Regions from separate parts of the Homo sapiens genome. Here region 2 is linked to region 1. The links come from fine-mapping of genetic effects on gene expression. A gene starts in region 1. The other region holds a variant in brackets. All regions are shown on one strand. Distances are from middle to middle. Region 1 holds the start of MICALL2 (MICAL like 2). Region 2 overlaps MICALL2 (MICAL like 2).

Region 1 (11,815 bases):
TCCGTCCACCCCAGGGGCCAGCAGCGGCTCTGTCCAGTGGGTTTCCCTGCAGGGCCATCTCACCCCCAGACCCACAGTCAGGCTCTCAGAGCTCCAGGCAGATCAGAGCACCCCAGGCCCTCTGGACACACCAGAGCCAGTGCCCACACGGCACAGGTCTGGGCTGCGAGTTCAAGCATCGCGGCCTCAGGATGAGGTTCAAGCTGCATTCGGGGCGTTTGAGGCCTATTCAACTGGGCTGCACCACCCCGGCCGGTCCCACAGCCACCACCCATCCTGCCCCAAGCTCCTTCCCCAGGGCCGGCCCTCCAGCCTCCAGACCATGGCTCCACTCTCCCGGCACAGAACAGCTTTTCCCACACTCCGCCCGATGCACCCGCCAGGCCCTCCCCAGATGCACCTTGCTGTCCCCGAGCTCACACCCCCGGGGCCCCTGAGCAGCTGAGCTCAGGGGCCCGATGCTGGCAGAAATCGCCGCCAGAACCGTCTCGCAAGCCCCACCAACATCGCCAGGTGGAGACCCCACTCGTGTCTCCAGGAGCCCCCCAAGAAAATGACACATTGGAGCCCTAACCTCCAATTCCACCACGTGACCTTATTTGGAGACAGGGTCTTTCTGGAGGTGAGAATTCATTTTGCCTCCTTTGGAGATAAGAGAATTCAAACAGGGTTCTTTGCGGGGAGCCCTGGTCCCATGGCTGGTGTCCTCATAAAAGGGAAATGTGGATGCAGATACAAACTGACAGGGGAAGAGGATGTGAAGGCACAGGGCGAAGACGGCCACCCCAGAGCCAAGGAGAGAGGCCGGGAAGATCCTCCCTCCTGCCCCCAGGAGGGCCCAGCCCTGCTCACACCTCCGTCCGGGACGTTGGCCTGCAGAACTGCGGGAGGACACTTTCCGTTGTTGAAACCGCCCGTTTGGGGGACCTTGCAAGGGCAGCTTGAGCAGGTGGACACCCCTGTCCTTGCCGGACAAAAATGCATCAGCTTCCCCCCACTCAGCAAGTGACCAGCTACCCATGGTGAGACGGCTGGAACTGGGACACAGCCCCAGCCACCGCTGCAAACCTGCAGGCTGTGGGATGGGGGCTGCAGGTTGCCCACCTCCGAGACATGGCATCCTCCAGGGTTTAATCTTCTCTTATTTGAAGCCTCAGAATTAAAATCAGGTATACCATGGCCCGGCTCCAAGACACACACCGTGGGCCAGGCACACAGTCGGTGCCCTATAAATGCGTGTGATGCATTTGTTCTGTGCTTGGTGAGATTTCTGTGGCAGTAACTTATTCTTTCAACACTGGCTGAAGGAATGAATTTGCCGTCTGTGTGTCGGTCACAAGATTTGCCCTGGCCAACTCTCCACCGTGCGTGCCCCTGCCCGGCCACACCTGCCCCCACCACCCCTCTAACTGACCCACGACCATCAACTTCAGCCCATGGAGTCCAGCCGGCCTCTGCCCCGGCGCCTCTGGGGGCTCTTGGGAATGTATACCCCCCTCCAAATTCCTGGGTGGCCGACATCACACTGTTTACTTCCTGGAACAAGATTCCGCCATGGAGTGGGGAGGGCGGGGGGGTGCAGGACTTGGAAGGGAAGGAGCCCCAGCCGAGGCACATCCAGCACATCAGGAGAGAATCCCACGGAGAAGGGAGCAGAGGGAGTGGGGAGAGGCAGGTGGACGGACAGAGAGAGCTGGAGAGAGAGAGGAAGACCCCAGCGGAGATGGTGGAGGGAGGCCCAAGAGAGACAGGGACCAGATGGCACAGTCGGGATGGCAGAGAGGGGACTCGGGGAAGGAGCAAACCTCAGAGACAGCGAGGACATGGCCAGGCAGAGCTCAGGAGAGGAGGGGGTGGGCAGGGGGCGGTGACGACTGGGGAGGGGAGGCCGCAGAGCCCCCACCTTGCACACTGGGCCTCTGGAAGGAAAGTGTGGGGCCCTGGGCAGTCCCCCTGCAGTAGGTGGACAGGCAGCCCCCTCCCGCGCCCGTCCTGGAGGGTTCCGGCCAGAGGCGGCCACAGAGGTCTGGCTACAGGCCCTGGGGCAGGAACAGAAGGCCTCTGTCCACAAGCAGCTTCCTGCTGACCCAACCCCGCGTGGGAGAGGAGGTCAGCCCACCCTCGGCCCTGGCCCAGGAAGTGAGGGCACTGCCTGGGAGCTTCTGGGTGGGGGCCTCTGCGTGAGTCTCTCCCCTGGCCCCCAACAATAGTGGTGTCTCGGGGAGCCCCGCCACCCTTGGGAGCCACTGCTGGAGGGCTCCATGCACTGCACAGCGGCCGCCCCAGCCACCCCCACTTCCTGGCCCAGCCCTGAGCCCGCCTCCAGAGCTGCAGGGACCAGGAAAACTTAAGGGACCCTGCCTTGGAACTGAGGGTGCAGCAGAGACCCAACTTCACGACACCCTCCCAAGGCCTGGCCACAAATCCGACAAATGCCCCCAGCCACGAACCCCAAGAAGGAGGCCGCAATGTTCTCCCACCTGCTGGACGGCTTCCTGCGCCACGCACAACGCCTGCCCTCCCTCCAGCCCTGCTCCCTCCCAGCCCAGACACGCTGTGCCCCCTGCCCCATCTGCCCGAGGGCTGTGCCTGGAGACCTGCTTGGGCCCAGGAATGAAAGGAGCCAGCCCATGGCAGAGCTGCTCCAGCCCCGACAGGCTGACTGGCTGAGGGAGGTGAGGCGGGAGGTGGGGCTGTTTGTTCTGGGTGGTTTCTGAGCTCACCTGGCTGCCCAGCTGCCCTGTGACACCAGTATGGAAACAGCGCCCGGGGGCAGGCGCCCTGAGGCCTGGCTGCAGAGAACCCACAGCCGCAGGTGAGACAGGGCAGGCGGGCACAGGCAGGCTGACCAGGCAGGGGACCCGCCCACCCTGCCACCTCCTGGTGGGCGTGGCTGGGCGATCCTGTTTCCTGGCCGTAAAGCGGAGATTCACGGACACCTCTCTGTACCTGTGGGGCTCCCCAGTGTGGTCACACGTGGCTCAAGGAGCCGGAACATGGTACACAGGAATGTCCGGATCCCCGCCCCCTCCACCCGGGGTCGGTGGGGCAGAGGCAGAACCAGGAGCCCGGGTGCCCCACCTGGCTGGCCTGGCGCCCGAGCTGGTTCCTTCACAGCTGCTCTCCCTGAGGGCCAAGCGGAAGTGCTCTCTGCGTGCAGCAGGAAGGACTAAGGCCAGACAAAGGGAAGGACTTCCTGGTGGCAGAGCTACAGACAGGGAGACAGGACGTCCACCCTTCTGCTGTCAAGGGGTCTTCACTGGAAGGAGAGGGGAATGAGGTGGCAAGGGCGGGGCCTCACACAGAGTCTGACCTCAGAGCTGCCCTGAGAGGACAACCGGTCTGTGCCTGTCCCTCACACGCGTTTCCTCCCTTCCTGAAGACTACTGGGGACAGGAGGGACAGCCAAGGGCTGCATGAGGAGACCTCCACCCCAGCCACCACCTCATCCAGAGGTACGGCAGGGAGCAGAGGCTGAGGGCACGGGATGGGGGTGATGAAGGCACAGAGGCAGGCACGTCCAAAGAGCCAGGGGCCAGGCGCGGCGGCTCACATCTGTAATCCCAGCGCTTCGGGAGGCTGAGGCAGGAGGATTACTTGAGGCCAGGAGTTCAAGACCAGCCTGGGCAATATAGCCAGAACCCATCTCAATTTAAAAAAGAAACAATATGCTGAGTGAAAGTAGCCAGACACAGGCCAGACGCAGTGGCTCGCGCCCATAACCCCAGAACTTTGGGAGGCTGAAGAGGGCAGATGGATCACTTGAGGTCAGGAGTTACACACCAGCCTGGCCAACATGGCAAAACCCCGTCTCTAGAAAAAATATGAAAATCGGCTGGGTGTGGGGGTGCACCCCTTTAACCCCAGCTACTTGGGAGGCTGAGGCAGGAGGATCACTTGAACCTGGGAGGCGGAGGTTGCAGTGAGCTGAGATCGCACCACTGCACTCCAGCCTGGGCGACAGAGCTAGACTCTGTCTCAAATAAATAAATAAATAAATAAATAGATAAAATTAAATTAAAAATAAGAAAATTAGCCAGGCATGGTCCCAGCTACTCGGGAGGTTGAGGTGGGAGGATTGCTTGAGTCCAGGTGTTCAAGAATGCAGTGAGCTAAGACGGTGCCACTGCACTCCAGCCTGGGCGACAGAGCGAGACTCCAACTCTGGAATAAAAGCAAAGGGCCCAGGCACCCATACAAGCGCATGTCCCCACACCCTGGTGCACACCCGACCCCCATGACACTCCGGGTTTTCCATCAGCCAGGGTCTACAGAGGCCCCCACGCCCCAACACCCATGGAAGCCTGTACTAGCTTCTTCCTACTGCCGTAACAAATTGCCACAAACTCTGGGGCTTAAAACACCAGGAATTTGTTTTCTCACGGCTCTGGAGGCCGGACTCCGACATCAAGGTGTGGGCTGGGCCTTGCTGCCTAAGGAGGTTCTCGGGGAGGGTCCTTCCTGCCTCTTCCAGCCCAGGACACCCTTGGCTTGTGGCTGCACCTCTCTGATCTCTGCCTCCAAGGGCACATGGCCTTCTCCTCTGTCCTTCTGCACGTGGGCACCTACTAAGCTCCTACCATATCTACTGAACCCCAACTGAAAGGCCCTTATCTGCAGAACTCCAACCATGTGCTGGTATCTACCGAGCCCAGTTCCAGGCACCAGGGGTGCAGCAGTGAACAAAACAGAGCCCCCACCCTCTGGAGCTGACAGTCCAGTGGGGACAGAACCAAGTCAGCCACAGCTTGGGTAACTCCACACCCACCGGAGCTGGGGGCAGAGGGCCTCCTCTCTCTCCCGCCTCCTTCCTGTTCTGGCCTCTGCACTCTCTGGAGCCACCCTGGGCTTTTATTCATTTACCTGTTCCCTGTCTGTCTCTGTGACCGGAACATTGCTCCCTGCATCTGGAGGCTGAGGGGAACTGGCACAGGACTCAGTGCTGGGTACACAGCAGGTACTCAATAACTGTCAGTGCACTGAGGAGATACACAGCGACCACCGTGCCAGTGCATGCACATGCACCTGTGCTCACCCTGGGCACTGCCCACAGGCACGTCTGAGCCGGCAGGGAGTACAGAGAAGCTCCCCAGGACCAGAGGGCCCCAAATCTCCGGCGACACCAGTGATCCATGAAGCTGGTGGCCAGCAGCCGGTGGCAACGCCTCTCCCCACCCCAGAGGCTTTTCGGGCTGGCCCCAGCTTGGATGCCTGGGCTCAGCCACCAGCCAGCCTCATCCAGGACCCTGCAGCCCCGGGGGTGGGGTCTCGCCTGCCTTCCTCCCCATTCCGGGTCCTTCTCCCAGTCTCCAGGTCCCTGGCCCTCTCCTTCAAAGCTCAGCGTCAGGCTTTCCATGTGGAAGCACGCACCTTGTGCCCAGCATCTTCTGCCTGCAAGGGCAACAGAGGCACGTTCCTGGCGAGGGAGAGCGGCTGCTGCCCAAACGCCAAATGGAAGCCCCTGGTGGCTCCACGAATGCATGTCACAACCTCAGAGCAGGGGCCGAGGCTGTTGCTCAAGACCCCAGCTTCCTGCAGAGAGTGGGACTGGCAGGACAGTGTCCAGGGGCACAGGGGAGGAGCCCCGGATCTGCGCAACGGGCTGGGGCTGTGTGACCTGAGCAAGGACCCCTCCTCTTAGCCTCGGTTCTCTGGTCTGCACAGCTGCGGCCTGACAGAGGCCCCAGGTGCTGCCTGTGGCTCCTCCCAACCCCGAGACCTTCCCACCAAAAACACACTCAGGAGAACGCTTTGCCCAGAAGGTGCCTGGGCTGCAGGTGGCCGTTGAGGGCCCCCCTTCCTGAGCGTCTGGCCCCCAGCCCCGACACACAGATCTCTGTCCCAGCAAGCCTGGTCCCAGTCATTTAGCCAAAGAGCGTTTGCTGAGTGAATAAACAATGGAGCAGGTCCAGGCTCGGGCCAAGATTCAGCAACGGGCAGGGCCAGCTGCCCAGCTACACACGCCAAGACCCTCCTGGGGAGAGACAGCCTAGTCCTCAACCCCTGCCACCTCCTGCTGCTCCCAGAGATGGGGGCTGTTCTCCATCTCGGGCCCTATCACCCGGGGCCTCAGAGGCCCGGCTGGCAGCAGCACCTGGGGTCTGGGGGCTTCCTGCCCTGCACTGGCCGCTCCCCCACAGTGGCCCTGGCCACATCCCCCCAGGGGCCTGAACAGGCTGGGGGAGGGTCAGTGCCCATACGAGGGCTATCCAGGGACCCCATCTGGTGGCCAGGCCCCTGGGCAGTGAGAGCCTCGGAGGGCCCAAAGAGGCAGCTCTGCTGGCCTTTCCCAGGGACACAGAGGGGGACTGGACTGAAGCCAGGGCCCAGGAGCCGCCCTGAGTCACGTCTGACTCAGCCGGCGGGCGGGGGATGCCATGGCTCTGGCCCAGCTGCATTCGGTGTCCGGGCACACTGAGGCCACTGAGGACAGCCTCGGGGGGCTGCACGGTGGGCTGTGCCTGCCCAGTCCCACGCCTCGGCTCCCCATCCCCCAGCCGCCCGGGCCTCAGTTTCCCCGCCCGTGTCAGCGCGCAGCCGAACAGCAGAAGAATCAAAGGGCGCCAGGCAGGACTTACATGAGGTCGGGCCGGTGGCGGTGCAGGATGGCGCAGAAAGCCAGGCCGTCGCGGAACGACGTGGTCATGTTGCAGATATTCACGTCGCGGTAGCCCTCGCACTGCTGCCGGCACCACTGTTGCAGCGCCCTGATGGCCGCCATGTGGGCGGCGCGCCCGCCGCGCGGCGGAACCGCCCTCCGACACCTTCCCGCGGCTGTGCCGCGACCGCCCGGCCGGCGGGACAGACGCTGGGACCGCTACGGAACCGCCAGACCCACGGCGCCCAGCCCCAGCTGAGCCGGACTGAGGGCGACGAGTGCCGGGTCCCTAAGAGAAGCCGAGCCCGGCCCCGCCCCCGCCGGCCCCGCCTCCTTGTAGGCCCCGCCCCCAGCCGCCAAGTCCTGCCTCCGGATAGGCCCCGTCCTCACACCTCCCAGCCCCGGCATAGGCTCCCGCCCAGGCAGGCCCCACCTCCCGACAGGCCCCGCCCCCAGCCGCCGGGTCCTGCCTCCTGATAGGCCCCGTTCCCACGCCTCCTGGCCCCGGCACAGGCTCCCGCTCCAGGCAGGCCCCGACTCCGGACAGGCCCCGCCCCCAGCCTCCAGGTTTTGCCTCCCGAGAGGCCCCGCCCCACGCCGCCCGGCCCCAGTACGGGCTCGCGCCCTAGGCACGTCCCGCCTCCTGGTAAGTCCCGCCCCCACGCTGTCAGGTCCCGCCCGACAGGCCCCGCCCCACGCCGCCTGGCCCCTCCCCAGGCCCCGCCCCGCCGCTGAGGGCCGAGACCCCCAACCGGTGAAGGGGCGCGGTCTGCTTGGGGGTCCTGCCATTCTGGACCCCTGCGGAGACCTGGAATTTTCTTTTTCGCCGCCCCACCTCCCACCACCATCTCACCCCACCGCCATGGAGAAGAGGCAGGAAAGGCCGTTGACAAACGGGGACACTGAGGCTCGAACACCCTGCCCTGTCTAGGGCCTCAGCCCTCGGCAGCCCGGCCTCCCGGGGAGCAGGAGGCGCCTTGTGTTTCAGGGTTTCAAAGGACGTCCGCATCTGGTTTCTCTTTCCAGGCCGCTACATGCCAGCGGGGGTTCCAGGCAAGGCAGAGGTGAGGCCTGGGCATTGCCAGAGGAGAAACTGAGGCCAGGAAGGGGGCCGTGGAGCCGGAGTTGCACAGCTGGCCTGTGCTTTTCTTCTGGGGGCCTGTGGGCAGGATCTGTTCCTGGGGCAGGAGATTCCTCAGGCTGACTTGCAGGGTAGTTCCAATTTTCCACTTTGAGCTGTGACAGAAGAAATAAGGAAAGTCCCTCTGCTGGGGCCCTAAATTATCCCAGACTGGCCCCTGGCCCCGTTATCCTTGGGGAACCTTGTCTGTGGCCACGGGGGCTGGACGAGGGCGGAATCACTGACACCAGCCATGTGAGGGGGGCCTACCCTCCTGGCTGTGGGGCCAGGGCTTGTCTGGGCAGGGCCTGCAGGAAGGAAGGTGTTTTCCCGCAGTAGCCCCTGGCAGGGAGTCAGGGCAGCTTCTCTGTGCCCCTTGGGAGGAGGAGAAACTGAGGTCTTCCAACCCCAGCCAATGGTGCTGTTCCAGATCTTTTCTGAGGCTGGTCCCTGGTGAGACACCGTAGTGTTCATGGCCAGCTGCCTAAGTGTCAGTGAGGCCTGTGTGTAGGTGGTGAGCTCCCCGTCACCAGGGGCATGCAAGCAGCTGCTAGGCAGGGAGCCCTTGTGGCCTGGGAATGTGGCTGGCCCTAACCGCTGCTCCGCCACAGTCCCTGACCTGCGGATGTCAGGGGATATCGTGCCAGCACAGCCGGAGCCGGTCCTGGCACCGGGTTTTCTTGACTCCCAGGGCAACGGTTAGGAGAACCGGAAGAGCTGGAAAAGAAGGGAGAGATCAAGAAGCAGAAGCAGCGGGGCAGTGGGCGGGGGGAATTAGTGGGGGATGGGGGACACAGGGGTGGACAGGCGTTAGGGCCCAGCTCCCTTAAAAGGAGTGGTGTGGGAGGTGGCCTGGGTTTCACTTTTATCGTGAACTTTTACCACTGCACACTTAAAAAGCCATCTCACTGGTCACCCCGTGGCCCATCCTGCGCGGCCCCCCTCTGGCACCAGTGAGCTGGGAGGCAGCATTTGTGACGTTTGCCCACCAGCACCTCACACACCATGTCCCTCCAGGGTCCCCGAAGCCAGGAGCCAGGACACCCCCAAACAAATGGTCCTTTCTCCCCACTGCCCACGGCTGCCACCCTCCCATCCAGACGACCTGTCCCCCCGCCTCTGCCCACAGGGCTGCCTCCTGCCCCTCCAGCCACCACAGTCCACCCTCCCCAGCAGCCCGAGGGATCTTTCTAGAAGGCCTGACCAAGCCCTTCCCCTGCCGGGAGCCTCCCAGGCTGTCCTTCGAATAAAGTCCAGGTTGCTTATCAGACTTTCCGCAGGCTTATCACGCTGCATCTCCCCGGCCGCACCCTGCCACGCTGACCCCAGAGCTTTGCGCCCGCACCGGCCCCCAGCACCCGCCCCTCCTCCTCATCCTCCAAGACCCCCACCCTGAAGCCCCTTGGAGCCACCGAAGGCTCCCAGGGTCCCCATCTGTGCTCCCCAGGGCTGCCATGTGGACTCTGCACACGCCTCCCCCGTCCAACACAGAGCCTCCACCCGGGGAACCCGCTGCCTTCTGGCCTCACTGGGAAACTGCCTTCTCTCGGGCTCAGTTTCCTCATCTGCAAAGTGACATCATGGTCCCCTTCCACCAAGGGCTACCCCACGGCCAGGCACGCAGTAAATGCAGCATGATGTACCCACCCAGGCACGCAATAAATGCAGCATGATGTACCCAGGGGTGGGGAACAGGTAAGAGCGGTGTGAGCTCAACAGGCCCCAGGATGGGGACTCAGATGGGGGCCCAGACTTCAGGCCCTTTAGAAATGATGATGACCTCAGCCTGGGACTAACAGAGAGAGAGAAAAAGGGGAGAAAGAGACAGAGAGAGAAAGAGAGGGGAGAAAGAAAGAGGAGAAGAGAGGGAGACAGAAGATAGAGCAAGAACCTCCCTAGGAAGGACCACGAGAACTGAGACCTGGAGGCTAAGCTAAGTAGGAATCACTTTGTTGGAGAGGAAGGGGAAAGGGCAAAGGGAACAGGAGTTGTAAAGGCCCTGCGGCAGGAAGGAAGACTCGAAGATAGGCTGGTGTCGCTGGTGCAGGGGACTGGGAGGAGGTGCAGGGGCTGCGGGAGGAAGGGGTGCAGGCAGCAGGGCCCGGCTAGGCCCCTACTCCAACTTCTCCCACCAATTTCCATGCCTACATTGTCATTTGATACTTACAGCCACCCTTTAAAAGTGGCTCTGGGCCAGGGGTGGTGGCTCATGCCTGTAATTCCAGCATTTTGGGAGGCTGAGTTGAGACGATCACCCAAGGTCAGGAGTTTGAGACCGGCCTGGCCAACATGGTGAAACCCCGTCTCTACTAAAAATACCAAATTAGCCGGGCATGGTGGCACATGCCTGTAGTCCCAGCTACCTGCAAGGCTGAGGCAGGAGAATCGCTTGAATCCGGGAGGTGGAGGTTGCAGTGAGCTGAGATCACACCACTACACTCCAGCCTGGGTGACACAGCAAGACTCTCCCCACCCTGCCGCTCGCCACCCAAAAAAAAAGTGGCTCTGGGCCAGGTGTTGTGGCTCATGCTTGTAGTCCCAGCTACTCAGGAGGCTGAGGCGGGAGATCACATGAGAACAGAAGGCTGCAGTGAGCTGTGATCACACCAGTGCACTCCAGACTGGGTGACAGAGACATTAATGTGTGTGTGTGTACACATACATATATGGGTGTGGGTTGGCTGTGGGTTTAAAACCCAAGATTGGCTGGGTGCAGGGGATCATGCCAGTCATCCCAACACTTTGGGAGGCTGAAGTGGGAGGTTTGCTTGAGGCTAGGAGTTCAAGACCAGCCTGGAAAACATAGCAAGACCCCACCTCTACAAAAAATACAAAAATGTTAGTCGAGTGTGGTGGTGTACACCTGTACTCCCACCTATCCAGGAGGCTGAGGCAGGAGGATTGATGGAGGCTGAGAGGTCGAGCCTGCAATGAGCTGTGATCATGTCACTGCACGCCAGCCCGGGTGACAAAACAAGACCCTGTTTATGATCTACAAAATAAATGGCTCTATTGATTCTGCACCTCAAAAAACTGAGGTTCTGAGAGGAAAGGAGGAGACTGGAGGGAGGGGAGGAGACAGGAGGGGAGGAGGGAGGGGAGAAGGCCCCCCGTTTCAGCCTGCCCTCTCAGGCAGCGGCCCTGACTCTGACACCAGGTGAGGCCCGGGAGAAGGTCGGCCCAGCTGGTGTCCTACCCAAGTGTACACCCTGGTCCAGGACAGGACTTCCAGGCCAGATGACCTGTTTCCCCACTTCCAGCCTCCACGTGTTCTGAACCCCTCAAAGATGATGGAGGCAGGGAGAAAGGGGTCTCTCAGCCCATCAGGGTGGCAGGGCCCGTGCTGGGGACCCAGGGAGGACATGGCCTGAGGCATCGCTCATTTCAGTCCAAAACATCCACCTTGGCTTGCATTAGCTTAGCTCCTGGGTCCCCAAGAGGCGCTGCAGAGGTGGGGACCCAGGTGCCACACCCGGAGGGGTGGGGCAGGCTTATGAGGGGTTGACTCCTTCCACCAGTGGATTCAACCCTGAACGTCACCTGACCAAGGCTGCTGGGCCAAGCTGGAACAGAATCGGATCCTTGAGTCTGGGAGGCGGAGGCGGTTCGGGAATGCAGAGGGCGTGAGAGAGAACCAAGGGAGGTGTCCTGGCCGAGTGGTGTTTCCCGCGGGACTTCTCAGAGCCTTCATCACCTGATACGCACCTCCACTCTTCCAGGGAGAGGACACACTGCACAGTGGTTCCCAAACTGACTTGCCCACAGGACCCCTGTGGACGGTTGTGGGGCACCACGTCAGCCCCCCTGCAGAGCGTGGAAGGGACGTTGCCCTCCCCACCCCCAAGGCTGCCATCAACCAATGCCATCCCTACTGCCCCCGGCAGGACAGGGAGCTGGAAGCTGTGACACCCCATTTTAAGGGGCCACCCATTAATTAATTAGGCTCCATGAATAATGCATGCCACCTTGGGTATATTAATAGCATATTTATATGGTGTGCTATGGGGAGTATACATTCTCGTCTGAACACCTCACAAATAATTCACGACACCGCTCCTTCCCCAGCCTCCAGGAGATCCTGGCCGGTGCTGCGGCTG
Region 2 (15,630 bases), 32 kb before region 1:
GCCTAGTGGTTCACAAAGCCCGCCCCACCCACCCAGGTCAGGGCTCAGGGCTGCCTGTGAGGTGAGCTTCGTTCTCCCATTTCACAGATGGGGAAACTGAGGCAGAGGGCAAACGCATCTGCCCAGTCCATTGAAGTGCTAGCGTTCTTCCACACTGCTCCCAGCCCTGGCTTCTCGCCTGTAAACTGTCTCGGACCAAGAATCCTGCCTGTACGCCCAGCCTGGCTGAAACACAGTCTCAAGGCACTCAGTGTTCCGGGCCCTGTTACCCCTCCAGCTCCCATAACCCCGTCTCCTCCTCCTCCTCGCCCTCCTCCTCCTCGCTGTCTCTGCACCACTTCCACCTGCCCGGGCCTTTGCACCTGCAGGTTCGTACCCTACGGGGTGTGCCCTGCCTTGCCCTGACAGCACAGCACTGCCCGGCCTCTGCTCTTCTCCACCTGCCATGGGCCTTTCACGGGACCTGAGGCCACACGCTCTGTACATGTGTGCGTCTGTGCATTGCCTGTTCCCCTCTGCTGGGAGGTAAGCAGGCCATGGTCTCCATTGCTATACCTGCTCGGAGCAGCCCTGGCAGGTAGTAAGCACCCTGTTCTTGGAAGAAGCCATGTCCAGGTGGGGGGGGCAGGTGTTGGGGGAGGCCTCTGATTCCGGCTAGGGCAGGGGTAAGGGTCTGGCAAGGCTGACCAGCATGCCCACCATGTGCCCCTCATCCCTGAATGCACCCACCTCCTCTGCTGGCAGGGCCAGGTCGCCGCCTCAGCTCCTCCAGGCCTGTTGGAGCGGCAGAGTCCAGAGCTGGCCAGGCTGCAGGAAACCCACCAGTATGGCCAGGTGGCTCCCCTGGTGGCTGCTTCCTGCCCAGCCCAACCTGGCTGCCACCAGCTCCCTCCACCTGCCTGCTCCGTGCAACCCTGGAGGGTCCCTGAACTCCTCGGAGCCCCGGTTTCCTCCTCCAAACAGTGGAGGCTCCTGTGTCCCAGTCCTGGTCTGGAGGAAGTTCCCTTAGCTGGGCCTGGCTGCTGTTCTGGGAGTTCATGGTCTGGGGACATTGCTACCACCTTGCTTTACAGAGCATGATCCAGGCTCCTCCCGGCGGCACCTGTAGTCAGAACTCGCTCCAACACAGGCGAGGAAACAGAGGGCCAGGGGGCAGAAAGGATGACTCGGTGACTCAGTGCCTCTCCCCATCTATTTCTCTCTCTCTTTTTTTTTTGGAGACAGAGTCTCGCTCTGTCGCCCAGGCTGGAGTGCAGTGGTGCGATCTCGGCTCACTGCAAGCTCTGCCTCCCGGGTTCACGCCATTCTGCCTCAGCCTCCCGAGTAGCTGGGACTACAGGCGCCCGCCACCACGCCTAGCTAATTTTTTGTATTTTTAGTAGATGTGAGGTTTCACCGTGTTAGCCAGGATGGTCTTGATCTCCTGACCTCGTGATCTGCCTGCCTTGGCCTCCCAAAGTGCTGGGATTACAGGCCACGCCCGGCCCCATCTATTTCTCTTGTAAGAACAGGCACATACATTTGCACTCAGGAAAAACCTCCATGAGCCGGGTGCGGTGGCTCACGCCTGTAATCCCAGCACTTTGGGAGGCTGAGGTGAGTGGTCACTTGAGGTCAGGAGTTTGAGACCAGCCTGACCAACATGGTGAAACCCCATCTCTACCAAAAATACAAAACTTAGCTGGGCGTGGTGGCGTGTGCCTGTATTCCCAGCTACTCAGGAGGCTGAGGCAGGAGAATTGGTTGAACCCAGCGGGTAGAGGTTGCAGTGAGCTGAGATCGCATCACTGCACTCCAGGCCTGGGCGACAGAGCCGGACTCCATAAAAAAAAAAAAAAAAAACCAAAAACCCGTTCATGAACACACGTGCTTGCATGAACACCCACGTATAATCATGAGTGTGCACACACTCCAGGGTTGGGGGTAACCCAGGCCCTGAGCCTAGCCTCCTTGGCTTAGTATGCACATGTGTGTGATGTGACTGATACGTAACACGCATCCCATGGGCGTCCCGTGCCAGGAATTGAGGGGGCCACACCCTACTCAACGCGGGGGACAGTCTCCGGGCTCCGTGGCTCACGGATGGTGGAGCGTGTCATTTCCCGCATGTGACACAGAGTGCGGACTGTGCAGAAGGCGGCTCTGTGCCTCGGAAGGCAGGGTGCAGAGGCGTGCAGCGCTCACCACGGGGATGCGGCCGGCTCCTGGGACGGGACCTGGAACGCGGATGTGGCCGGATGTTTAGTGGGTGCCGTGCACGGTGTCTGACACATCAGATGTGATGTATACCTCGCACGAAAGACGTTGTGTTCATCAACAAATCAATTCAGTGACACTTTGCTGAGCACCTGCTATGTGCCAGGCCCCGGGTATACAGCGGCGAGTGGACAGATCAAGTCCCTGCCCTCGTCGGGGGTGGTCAGGGAGACCCACTGAAGACTTGGGGAGGTCGGGGCGACCACTCCAGGACAGAATGTTGTGGACAGCAGGGCCATCAGGCAGTGTGCCCGGGTTGTCCGAAACCTGCAGAGGCCAGTGCTGCCAGAGTAAGCAAACGGCAGGGTGTCCCGAGGGCCAGGGGGCAGATGGCAGGCCTTAAAGCCACACAGGTGCCCCATGCCCTGACACAGCCCTGGCCTCTGGGTGACAAGCACCTGAGGGGCTGTCTGTGGTCCCAGGACATGGGAGGCCAGGCTGCTAGAGTCTGAGGACCGGCGGGGTCCTGGGTGCCCTGGTGCCCCTGCACAAGGCTGGTTCCCCATCTTTGGAGGTTTGCTAACTGCCCCCCATACCACAAGACTGGCTGGCCCCGCAGAGGGATGGCAGTGGCACGGAGTGAGACCTGAGGGGGTGGCCAACAGTCTTCAGCATCTGTGCAGCCCAACTCCCATTGTACCAAAGGGAGACTGAGGCTTGAAGAGGATGAGGCCTGGCCCAGACCCTTCAGAAATGGGACAAGCTGCTGGGACGAGCTCTTGGGTCCTCAGTCTCCCTGGCCAGGTGTGCACAGGTAAATAGGCAGGTGTGTGGCTCAGTTGGAGGGCAGGTGTCCCCGGGCTCGGCCAGAGCATTTGGGTGGCAAAAGCTTGGCCAAAGCCACAGCTCCCAGCCAGTCCCCGCTGAAGGCCCCGTGAGGCCAGCTGGGCCGGCCACCCAGGCTCCCAGAAAGGGAAACTGAGGCTCAGAGAGGGCCGCCCCTCGCCTAAGGTGCTCCAGTGCAACTGAGTCAGACTGGGTCCTCAATCTTCCCACCCTGTCCCCCCACCCCAGCCTCTGTGACAGAAAGAGACCAGGGCCCTGGCCAGGGGCCGAATCCCACCCCAGCCTCACTCTGCCCCAACCCCCCAAGGAACAATTTACCTTTCGGAGCTGGTCCAAGATATTAATTAAGATAAATCTACCTCAATTTTGAGATTCTCTTATCATGTAATTTATCAAAATTATGTTAATTATTTCTGTAGGGCAGCAAAATTATTACCTCTTTTGTGTCTGATTTGTATTAATATTCATAATTTAATAATTCAGCATCTTGGCCATCTGGTCCGGGAACAGGCTCCCTTCCCTCCCTCAGTCTGAGCCAAAGCTTCCCCATCACCCCCGCCGGTGTCCCCAGGGCCCCACCCGCCCTGTCCCCGGTGTCTTCCCTCCGTCCAGCCCTGCAGACGCTGCCCCCTGCCCCCTGCCCCCTGCCCCAGCCCTGATGGCCCCGCCGGCCCCGAGGCACAAACAGGTACTCGCACAGGTACATGCACGCCCTCGCCACCCCCGCTTGGCAGGTGAGCCAAGCTGAATTGACATTTTCCACACTTTGTGAGTTTTACACTGTAATTTGACATAATTAATGCCTACATTACTGCTGATAATTTAGCTAGTTAATTAAACTCGGAGGAGATAATTAAGGAAAGGCTACTGCTTGGATTGCTAATTGTTTTTGTCATTATTTCAGGGGGCCGACAGCTGCTGGCTGAGTCATCCTGTTTTGTCAGCTGATGGGTCATGTGACACAGGGGTCCCCCAGGGGCCCCCCACTTCCAGGGGAGGGAGGAGCGCAGCTGGCTACCTGGCTGCTGCCTGGAGCCTCGCCAAGCGCTGCTGGCTGCTCTGGTCTGGCCTCACCCGCTCCAAGCAACGACAGCTTCCCACGGTCCCTGGGGCCTTCTGAGCCCGGCTGAGAGCTCTGGCCGGAGGCACACCCAGGTCAGCCTAAGCCAAGGAGAAGGGGGCACCCCCAGCCCCTGCATCCAACCCTAAGACACGAAGTGGCACCTGGCGGCATCTCAGCCTTCTGCAGTGGTCAGATAAGAAGCAGAACTTTCTGAGCCTGCTGGAAGCAGAATGGATGAGCCCACATTGCAGAGAATGACAGGGAAACTGTGGGAGTAACAGAGAGGGAGAGAAAAGGGGGAGTGGGGAGAGGAAGAGAGAGGGGGGAGAGAGAGAAACAGACTGAGAGAGAGGGAGAGAGAGACAGAGAGGGAGAGAGGGAGAGGGAGAGAGAGACAGAGAGAGGGGGAGAGGGAGAGACAGACAGGGAGAGACAGAGACAGAGAGATGGAGGGAGAGACAGGGAGGGAGCGACAGAGGGACGGAGAGATGGAGGGAGAGAGAGACAGAGAGGGAGAGACAGAGACAGAGACACAGAGGGAGAGACAGAGAGAGGGACGGAGAGACAGAGACAGAGTCAGAGACAGAAGGGGAGGGAGAGACAGAGACAGAGAGGGAGGGAGAGACAGAGACAGAGGCAGAGACAGAAAGGGAGGGAAAGACAGAGAGGGAGGGAGAGAGGGAGACAGAGAGAGGGAGGGAGAGAGGGAGACAGATGGAGGGAGAGACAGAGAGGGAGGGAGAGAGGGAGACAGACAGAGGGAGGGAGAGACAGAGACAGAGAGGGAGGGAGAGACAGACTGAGCTGGGAGTGAGGGGGAAGAGGCGGCAGGAGCAGCACGTGGAGAAGCTGTCAAGCTCACCTTCCCCAGCCCCATCCCGCCCACCCTCCTGGGGACTGGTTGACTCAAGGTCAGAAGAAGGGGCTACGCCTGGGGAGGCGTGTCATTGTCACTGTTGTCCTCACTTCCATGGAAAACGGGGTCTTGCAAAGGTCCCACAACAGGGAGGTGGCCCCAGACCCAGTGCAGGCCTGGGGAGGGCCATGGCGCAGGAGGCTGGCCCAGTGGCTCTGCCCTGGTCGGGGATGGGATGGCAACTCTGCTTCCTGGGCCTCAGCATCCCCACTGACTTCAAGAGAGTGGACGGGGCTGGACAACCCCCAGGCCCCAGCGCAGACGGTGTGGGGAATTGAAGGACATCCCGTCGGCGTGACATCAATGGAAACCAATAGGGTGTTGACTTGGCTCTCAGGAAATTCAAGTCAAAGAGGCTTACACGACCCTGGATTCATTATCCTTCCCAACAAGAAATCTACACATAAGAAGGTTCTAGACTGGCTAATTCAGGGCTCAGTGACACCAACAGGAGGTCAGCAAAGACCCAGCAGCCTTCCCTGTTTCTGCCCAGCTCGTCTCTGCTTGGCGGCCTTACCATCCCTCATGGTCCCAAACTGGCTGCTGTGGCACCGTGAGTCCTGTGTACCACCACAGCACCCCAAATACCAGATGGCATCCAGCAAAGTTGGGGGCTGTGTCTGCCACATAATCATACTATGTTCTTAATGGGAGGTTTCCAGCGGACTTAGAATCCCAAGACTTTCTTCTGCTGAACCCTTGATTTTCTTTCCTCTGCTGGTACCAGCTGTAGCTTGGACCACAACAACTGCCTTTCTCACCACAGCAAAGCACTGCCTCATGGAACCCTTAATCAGTAGATTCTGACTTCAGAAAGAAGGGTTCCCTTAGCAAATCCCTAATTCCTGCCTTGAGCTTTCAGATTGGCTACCTTCAACCTAAACTCAACCCTCTCTCTTTTTTTTTGAGATGGAGTCTCACTGTGTCGCCCAGGCTGGAGTGCAGTGGCACGATCGTGACTGACTGCAGCCTCAAACTCCCAGGCTCTAGCAATCCTCCCCCCTCAGCTTCCTGAGTAGCTGAGACTACAAGTGCATGCCACCATGCCTGGCTAATTTTATTTTATTTTATTTATTTTATTTTTTTTTTTTTTTGACACAGAGTCTTGTTCTGTCACCCAGGCTGGAGTGCAGTGGCCTGATCTCGGCTCACTGCCATTTCCGCCTCCCGGGTTCAAGCGATTTTCCCAGCTCGGTCTCCAAATAGCTGGGATTACAGGTGTGTGCCAGCATGCTTCGCTAATTTTTGTATTGGTAGTTGAGACAGGGTTTCTCCATGTTGGTCGCAAACTCTCGACCTCAGGTGATCCACCTGCCTCGGCCTCCCAAAGTGCTGAGATTACAGGCGTGAGCCACCACACTTGGCCTAATTTTTAAAAATTTTTGTAGAAATGGGGTCTCACTATGTTGCCCAGACTCATCTCAAACTCCTGGGCTCAAGCGATCCTCCTACCTTGGCCTCCCAGAGTGCTGGAATGGCAGGCATGAGCTTCCGCACCTGGCCTCCTGCCCACATCTTGATCTCAGACTCTGGCCTCTAGAAGTCTAACTGTTCCTTGAAGCCCCCCATTTTCGGTACTTTGTCACTGCAGCCAGACATCACTCATGCATCCCCAATATCCATTCCCCACCTCCCCTTTTAGCGGCCACAGCAAGCCCCAGAGGGAACTACATTCCCCAGCATCCCTTGCAGCCTGCCCTGGCCATGTGACTATATTCTGGCCAATGAGGATAGAGCAGGCCACACCTGGTGGGCCCTGGATGTCAGCGAGGGGGTTATATGTCCTTGGTTTCTGCCCCCTGGACCTCACACCCACAGCCAGAGCTGGCGTCGAAGACCACCCTGGTCCCATGTCTCTCCACCTAACGCCCTCCGGGCCCCACCCCACCATCCTGCCCCTCTGACCTCTCCCAGCCTTTCCACTCGGACGGAGTCCATGCCTGGCCAGAACTTGCAACTCTCCCTGGCCTCAGGGCCCCTGCCTGGCTCAGCCGCAGCCCTCCCACCAGGCTGCCTCTCCCTCCCCTCAGCACCCTCCCCAGGGCCCCACGTCCCTGCAGAGCCCCGGCCCCCAGGACTGCCATTCTCTTTATGCCTCCACCAGGTCCTCGAGGACAGGAGCTGGTGGGTCTCTTGCTGGTGTGGGGCTGTGGTACCAGCGGGTGGCCTGGCATGGAGGAGATGCTCAATTAAAAGAACGGAACAAAGGGTCCGGATGTGGTGGCTCACACCTGTAATGCCAGCACTTAGGGAAGCTGAGGCCAGTGGATCACCTGAGGTCAGGAGTTCGAGACCAGCCTGACCAACATGGCAAAACCCCATCTCTACTAAAAATACAAAAATTAGTTGGGCATGGTGGTGCACGCCTGTAATCCCAGCTACTCCGGAGGCTGAGGCAGGAGAATCGCTTGAACTCGGGAGGCGAAGGCTGCAGTGAACCAAGATCGTGCCATTGCACTCCAGCCTGGGTGACAGAGCGAGACTCCATCTCAGGAACAAAAAGGATGGAATGAAGGACGAAAGGATGAACAAACATTTCCGGGAGAGCGCTGACAGCGGCCGAGGCTGCCCACCTGGACCTTCAATGATGTGGCCGTGGGCGGCGTCCACGGGACAGAATCTCCCCGTGACTAGCACCCACTAGTTTCATCCCATGGGGGTGTGTGTGGGCCTGGGTTGATGGGGTCCTGGGGGGACAGGGTCCTGCTGTGAAGCTGGACTTAGCCTAGAGTGTAACAGGAAACCCCAGAGGGCTTCTGCAGGGGCCACCAAAACACTGAGCTCACTTGGGGAGGGTGGGGAGACACGGAGAGTCCTGGAGTCAGGGGCTGGTGGAGGGGAACGCTCAGACCCAGGAAATCGTGTGGGAGAAAACGGACAGGATGTGGACGAGGGAGGGGCTACCATGATGGTGGACACCCCAAAAATGGTGAGCAGGATCTCAGGAGACCCTGCAATGTGCCAGAACACCCCCGTCCACAGAAATGGAACCCGAGCCACAATGAATGGGCCACACCTGCCATTTTCAATTTTCTAGTAGCTGCGTTTAAAAAAAGTAAAAAGAACGAAGCGAGAGCCAGGCACGGTGACTCATGCTTGCAGCCTCAGCTACCTGGGAGGCTGAGGCAGGAGGATCACTTGAGCCCAGGAGTTTGAGATCAGCCTGGGCAACATAGCAAGACCCCAGTTCTACAAAAAAATGCCTGTAATCCCAGAATTTGGGAGGCTGAAGCAGGAAGATCGCTTGTGTCCAGCAGGTCAAGACCAGCCCGGGCAACAGAGTGAGACCCCATCTCTACAAGAAGTTAAAAAATTAGCCAGGCGTGGTGATGCACGCCTAGAGTCCCAGCCACTTCGGAGGCTGAGGTGGGAGGATCGCTTGTGTCCAGCAGGTCAAGGCTGCAGTGAGCTATGATCACACCACTGGACTCCAGCCTGGGCAACAGAGCAAGACCCTGTCCCAAAAATAAATAAATAAATACATTTTTATAATTGCTAGCCTGATGGCTTCTTTTCATCTTAGAGACCGCGAAACCCCCAACAGCTGCTCTCGGCTACCAGGGAAAGGGCCTTGTTGAAGTGCAAAACTGAAGCAGAAAGTCTTTGCTTCCACGCCCGCCCCTGCAGGCCGAGTCCCTGTCCTCTGGGCCTCCAGGCCACTTAGTGTTAGACCCAGCCTCCGTCCCGCTGGCCCCAAGGGTGGCTTTCTGGGACTGTGTCCCCGGGCCTGCCTCTTCTGCTCTCCTCGGCTTTCAATTTGCTGTGACTTGTGTGACTGCATCCTTCTCCCTCTTAAATATTTAAGGTGGCCGGGCGCAGTGGCTCACACCTGTCATCCCAACATTTTGGGAGGCCAAGGCGGGCGGATCACCTGAGGTCAGGAGTTCAAGACCAGCCTGGCCAACATGGTGAAAGTCTTGTCTCTACTAAAAATACAAAAATTAGCCAGGTGTGGTGGCGCATACCTCTAATCCCAGCTACTCGGGAGGCTGAGGCAGGAGAATCACTTGAACCTGGGAGGCGGAGGTTGCAGTGAGCCGATTGTGCCACTGTACTCCAGCCTGGGCGACAGAGCGAGACTGTCTCTCTCTCTCTCTCTCTCTATATATATATATATATAATATTTAAGGTGGCAATTCTTAAAATGGGAACATGCATCTGCTGAAATCCCTCCGCCGTCCCTGGTATATCCTCGGACCTTGATCCCAGCCACCGCCTGTGTGCAGATGAGGCCAAGTCCATCTTGCCAGGCACTGACCCCGGGCCTGCTGCTCCTGCTCACAAAACCAATCGCCCCTTTTCTGGAAAGTTCTCCCCCGTAAGTCGAGACTAGAAATGGCCCATATGGAAATATAATGTTGTTAAAACCACTGATTAAGTTTTACACAACTGTGTGAGAGCAAACGAAAAGGTTTTAGCTTTTTAATTTAAGAAAAGAGGAATGTGATATAATTTCAATTTGTGATAAGATGAGATGTTCTCGATATTGCAGTTTCAATTGGATTATATCCTAACGTGCTTTATAAAGTGTCAGGCCGGCTGCCGACGAAGGGGTGTGTGTGATTATCTTTATTAATAATCCGGTGGGCTGGTGTTTTTTCTATCCGTCTTCATCAGTGTTTCCAGCCCACCTGGGAGACCTCGTTAGCGCAGAATCCAAAACCGTGACCTGAGACGGCAGGGCTGTGATCGTCACGGCAGGCCGGCCCGGGGGGAAACACCTAGGTGGACCGACAGACAGACAGATGGGGTGTCAGGACCCATCACAGCCAGCCAGACAAAGGCCTCTGCCGGGAGGGTCCCCGGGGAGCAGGGCCCTGGGAGTCCAAGCTCCAGACCAGTAGGAGCCAGGGCAGCTTCAGGGTGAGGGAGGTTCACCCAGCAGGAGGCCCGCAGACAGGAGCAGGGCCCGGACGTATGATCTGGCTGTGCCCCTCCTGGCGGGGTCTGCAGGGCCGAGGGGGCCACCCAGAGCTCATGTCCACCTCCCACCTGATGCCCCAGCACCCGGGACCCCAGAATTCCCTGAGCGCACACCCTGAAACCCCCTTCGAGTCCTCCTGAGGCCTTCCCAGCCCTGGCGTGGAGGCTCCCAGGCCCGAGGTGGGAGGCTCCTCCCTCCCAAAGCTAAACAGGGCTTCCGGGGAGGAGAAGTGGGGGGAGCTTCGGGCTCAACTCTCTCCCGGGCCCCACAAAGGTGAGGGTGGGCCTGGCAGGGAATGGCCGCTGGGGAGCAAGCCTGCATGGCAGCCGTCAGCCTCCTGCGTCTCAGGCTCCAGAGGAGACCCCTTCAGCCCCCCTGCGTCTTGGGCTCCAGAGGAGGCCCCTTCTCCATGATTCACCCGAGAGAAGCAAGGCATGGCTGTCCCTGGGGTCCCCGTGAGGCCTTGGAAGGACGTGGAGGGGCAGGAAGAAGCCAGAAGACACAGGAAAAGCTCCTCCTTCCCAGACACCCTCACAGCGGCCGCTCGAGGTTGGAAGGAGGCCAGGCTGCAGAGGTGCAGGCCACAGACATTTCTACCTGGGGGTAACTGTGGGCTTCCCAGAGCCCCCCCACCCAGGGAGCCCCCCAACTGGGGCCGTGCAGCAGAGCCACATGGGGGGCCCTCACTGGGAGGAGTCTGAGCTCTGCTCCCTGCCTCCTCCCAGATGGAGGCCAAGGCACAAGAACCAGGCCCTGCCCACTCCTGCCATGGGGCCCTGGGCACTCCGTGACTCAGTTTCCCCTCCTGTCACAGGGACAGGGTGTTGCCCACGACTCCCTAGTTTCTGTGAGGGGCTTCATGGCACAGGGCGTGGCCATGCCCCCATCGGAGACCCCTCCAACTCTTGCCCCAGCCAGGAGCAGCCCCTCTGTCCCCACCCCAAGCTGGGCCCACCTTGGCAGGCTCAGGGACTGGGAAGGTCCCTCCCCTCTCTGGCCTCAACACCCTCCTCTGAAAACGGGTCTGGGGGTAGCTGAGGTGCTGTGGGAAGGGCCAAGCCAGTTCCTGTGCATCGGGGCGGGGCTGGAGCAGGAGGCCTGGGCAGGGCAGA[T/C]GGGGCGGCAGGGGTGAGGGGGCCCCACCATGGAAGCGGCTGAGGTCTGCTCTGCATGTCAATTCCCCGCTCCCTGCGGGGCAGACCAGCTATGACATTCCCAGGCCCCGGCCGGGACCCGCAGCTTACACAGATCAGGGTGGGGGGCGGTCTTTGGGCCCGGCCGGGCTGTGCTCATCACTCGGGGCCAGGGCCAGGCTCCCTCTCTGGGCCCCAGGGAACAGGGCAGCCCCCCGTTGTGGGATGCCCGGAAAATCCCCCAAGAGACGTTGTGCTCTCTTCCCGAGTCCCTCCCTGTCCCTCCCCTGCTCAGCCCAAGTCTGGGTAGGGCAGGAGGTGCCTGGTGTGTGCCCGCTGGCAGTGGCTCCACTGCCCACCCCACGAGACCTGATTCAATCCTCCCACCCCGGGCAGGGCAGGGGCAGCCCCGGGGGTCCCACAAGTACGAAACCAGTCAGGCTCAAGCAGGTCTGTCTCCCTGGACCAGTGGACCAGGTAGCAACCCTGGGCCAGGTGCTAGCCCCCTTGACAGGTGAGAAGACTGAGTCCTGGAGTGGCGTTGAGCCCTGGTGTCATTCATTCATTCAACAAATCCTCATCAGGCTCCTGCCGTGTGTCAGGCACTGTTCTAGGCGCTGAGGATGGCGTGGCAGAAAGACGGAGGAGCCGGGACCTCCGGAGGATCCGTCACAGAGAGGAAGCCCAAACAAGCATCTAAACATAGGTGCGTTCCGAGTGTTGGCAATAAACCAGGGTGGCCGTGTGCTCACGCCTGTCATCCCAGCAGTTTGGGAGGCCAAGGCAGGAGGATTGCTTGAGGCCAGGAGTTCAACACCAGCCTGGGCAACATGGCAAAACCGTGTCTCCACAAAAAAAAACTTTAAAAATTAGCCGGGCGTGGTGGCGTGCGCCGGGTGTCCCAGCTACTCGGGAGGCTGAAGTGGGAGGATCACTTGAGCCCAGGAGGTCAAGGCTGCAGGGAGCCGTGATCACGCCACTGCACCCCAGTCTGGGCAACAGAGTGAGACCCTGTCTCTAAAAAGAAAGAAAGAAATCAGGGTGAGGGGCAGGAGCTTCTCCGAAAAGGGCAGTTAAGCAGAGATAGCAGGATGCCAGCTATGTGGAGTGCAGGGGCCCCAGGAGCAGGACCAGCAAATGCAAACGCCCGTGGCCAAGGCCCGGCAGCCGGAGCGGAGGGGGCAAGGGTGACAGAGGTGAGGCTGGAAGAACTCCTGGGAATCAGCCCAAGCCTGCCCTGGCTTCGCAAGGGGTGAACACAAGTCCCCACCAGCTGCCCCCACCCTCCCACAGACCAGTGCCCTGTAATGGCTGGGCTGGCCCCCTGTGCCCGGCCTGGAGGGGCCACTCAAGTCCAAGTCCAAATTCCAAGCATCCCAGTGGAGACTCTGCTTGGTCCAGCCTTGCCTCCCTCCTTGTCCCTCCTGACGCAGCCACACGGGGCCAGTGTCAGCTCCCCACCCCAGAGCTCACCAGAAGGACCACACCGGTCCCTGAGCCCAGAACACTCCTCAATCCAGCCCTTGCTCCCCAGACCTGAGGCTGTAGTATTGAGGCCAGTGCAGATACAGGGGCCGACGGGGATGTGGGTCAGGGAACAGCTCTTCCCCTTCTCTGCGGCCCCACCCACCCCCATATCCATTCAGGAAGACTGGCTGTTCCTAGCCATGTCTGTAGAGAGAAAGCCTCTGATGTGCATGGACTGCCTGCCACGTGCACAGGCACGAGACGCTGGCCCGGAGTCTCTGGCAGGTGTGGGTGACGTCCAGCCAGGCCACTGGGGAACTGCGTGCCTCTGCCCTCCCTGAAAGTTGTGAGGGGTCATCTAGGGTGGGTGGGGCCCGGGCTGAAACTCTTCCACATTGGGGTTGGGGCAGCCTCTGCAGGAGCCGGGCGGCGGCGCAGCCAGCCCCACCTGTGCCCGAGTGGCTGCTCAGGGGTTCCCACGCCCATCCTCACAGCCTCCTGCAGCACAGGCAGCACAGGCATCACAGGGCCTGGCCAACGCCCATGGCCCCAGGGCTGCGTTCCTGCCTGTCTCTCCATGATGGTGTCACCGGGGTCTGCAGGTGCTGGGCCCCTGGTGGACAGCAAGGACATCCCGCAGGGCTGGCTTAGTGCCTGGCAGACCTGACCACTTGTTGCAGGGGCTCTGATCACTGAGCACCAACTGTGTGCCCAGCCTGGAGCGCACCTGGCACCCCAGGGCTGCTTCTGAGGTCCCCAGATGCAGGGGGCTGATGGTGGGGGCGGAAGCTTCCTGGCCCTGCGGTGGGACACCCCCAGGTGTGAGTCCACAGCAGGACCGAGCCCCAGGTGCCCACGCCCCTAACTTGCTGGACAACACTCCCTTCCCGTTCTGGTCTCAAAAATGCTACGCAGCCCCCTGCCCTGGCCCCGCCTCGCTTGCTGTGTGACGTGGGAGAGCCGTAGCCCTCTCCCAGCCTCAGTTTCCCTGTCTGAAAAACGGAGCTATTCCAGGCTCCCGGCTGCCCCTCTCCACTAAGTGGCTCTCTGCCTCCCCCTGGTGGTGAAGAGGCCACACTGCCGCGGGTCAGGCCTTACGACGTGAGCACGGGGCTGAGATCCCAGGGGGACCCACGGGGCTGAGATCCCAGGGGGACCCACAGGCTCAGCTCCGGGACCCGGTCCAGACCGCCCTCCACGGCGTCATGCTCCTAACACAGCAGAGGCCCTGGGGCTTCTGCTCAGAACCACCCCAGGCACCCAGTGCCTGAGGAACGAGGCCACCTCGCTGCACCTGGAAGGTCCCTGCCGGCCCAGGTCCTGACAGAGCCCCTCTCTCTCCATCACCCGCTCCGCCTCACCTGACCCTGACCCCGGCCCCGCCCCAACCTGCCCCACCACACATCTTCAAGCTCCCAAGATCACTGCCTATGCTGTTCCTGCAATAGGGCACACCCTGCCCATCCACCGAGAGACCCCTACTCCTCGACACCCAGGTGAGACCCCCCCCTGCAGAAGTCTCCTGGGGGCTCCAGGGTCCCACTGCTGCCAGCCACTGCCTCCCAGTCCTCGGAGGGCACAGGGAGTTTCCACCAACACACTCGGTCCCAGTGGCCTGACTCCAAGAGAGGCCTCAGGGCCAGGCAAAGCACGACCCCGTTCCCCACTCATTGCTGTGTGCAGGTGACCCATGGCCTCATCTGGGGGAGCCCCTTTCCCTCCACGGGGGCCCCGAGTGGCTGGCAGAAGCAGGGGGTACAGAGGGAGGCAGCGGGGGTCTCGCTGTCAGCAGAGGGCAAGAGAGCACCTCCGTGCTCCTCCACCCTCATCACTGCCCGAGGCACACCGGTGGGCCCCTCTCATCCTCACACGGCCCCCAGGCAGCCTATGTCACCAAAGGCTCAGAAAGGGCAGTGCCCTAGCCCGAGGCCAAAGAGCTGCCAGGAGCAGAGCTGTGACTGCAGAGGCTGTGCTCCATCCGTGCACCCCAGCCCACCCTCTCTTCCATGCCCCACACCCAGCTCACGTTCCAGGAGTCTTGAGACCCTCAAAGGCACAGTGAAGGCCATGGAATGCCACAGGCCTGCCCAGCACAAGCTCCCCAGGGCCCACGCGCACACGGCAGGGGCTCCAGGCTCTGAACCTGCTCTGGCCCTGCTGGGACCCGTGGGGTCCCGACCCCCCCAGCCAGCAGGTGGAGAACACTGGTGCTTTGCCATGGCTGAGGGTTCCCCAGGACCGCCGCAGAGGCTCCTACAGCAGCTGAAACAGCGCAGCAACAAGCAGCTGAGGCCCGCCCCTCCCCGCACAGATGGGCAAACTGAGGCTTACAGGGACGCTGCACTCCTGACTCAGCGCTCCTCCCACGACATCCACTCTCAGTGGGGGTCAGAAAGGATGGGGCACCCCACATCCCGCCCTGGCCACCAGGAAGTCTCCCTGACCAGGGGCCACTGCTTACAATCCCCCATCCCAGCCCCAGTCCTGGGAGAACGAGGTCACAGCTCTCAGGCCACGGATACATGGCGACCCAGCACCCAAAGTCTCCAGCCTGTACCGACGTCTCCTCTGAGGCTCCCACCAGCCCATCTGTGCCAGGAAGCTATGAAAGGGCCCACCTTCGAGGGCCAGGCCCTGAGAGGGTCGGCTCCTGCCCGAGGCCACAGAGCACGTCCGTCCTGCAGGCAAGAGCTGGGAGGCAGGCGAGACCCCAGGCAGGTGCGGGGCCGCCCAGGGGCACCGAGGCAAACACGGAGGCACGTAGGAGTCCGGGGCCATGTGGTCGGTTTCTTTATTGAGACCACAGACGGTAGCGCAGGTCCCTGCTGTCCACATGCCCCTTGTAGGGACAGGAGGCCCTTCCCGAGTCCAAGTCCGAATGCCGGGTCCGGGCCGAGCCCACGGCCCCGAGTACAAGTCCGGGTTCCGGGTCCGGGCCAAGCCCATGGCCCCGAGTCCAAGTCCGGATGCCAGGTCCGGGCCGAGCCCACGGCCCTACTGGCTACTACTGGGAGGGGCTGCTTTTGCTTTTTGGTGACCAGATCTTGGACAAGCGGAACTTGGACTTCTTCCTCTGGAGGCCTAGGGG

Evidence for each region.
Region 2: its variant is fine-mapped to the expression of MICALL2 in esophagus mucosa (GTEx, PIP above 0.99).

What each region holds. Positions count from the first base shown.
Region 1 is chr7:1,452,606-1,464,420 of GRCh38, forward strand. MICALL2 (MICAL like 2) reads right to left here and starts at 6,865. Exons shown (of 17, transcript NM_182924.4): 1 at 6,579-6,865. The coding sequence starts at 6,721. MICALL2-DT (MICALL2 divergent transcript) reads left to right here and starts at 7,314. Exons shown (of 2, transcript XR_001745046.2): 1 at 7,314-7,662; 2 at 11,237-11,815. RefSeq lists silencers at 1,908-2,202, 6,638-7,357 and enhancers at 4,819-5,541, 5,542-6,264, 7,688-8,239, 8,240-8,791, 8,328-8,622.
Region 2 is chr7:1,419,050-1,434,679 of GRCh38, forward strand. MICALL2 (MICAL like 2) reads right to left here. Exons shown (of 17, transcript NM_182924.4): 17 at 15,310-15,623. The coding sequence ends at 15,547. Among named protein-coding and RNA genes, the nearest start is that of MICALL2, 33 kb to the right of the region's middle. RefSeq lists enhancers at 1-521, 522-1,192, 9,494-10,049 and a silencer at 4,064-4,358. The variant T/C (reference allele first, on the strand shown) is at 11,058.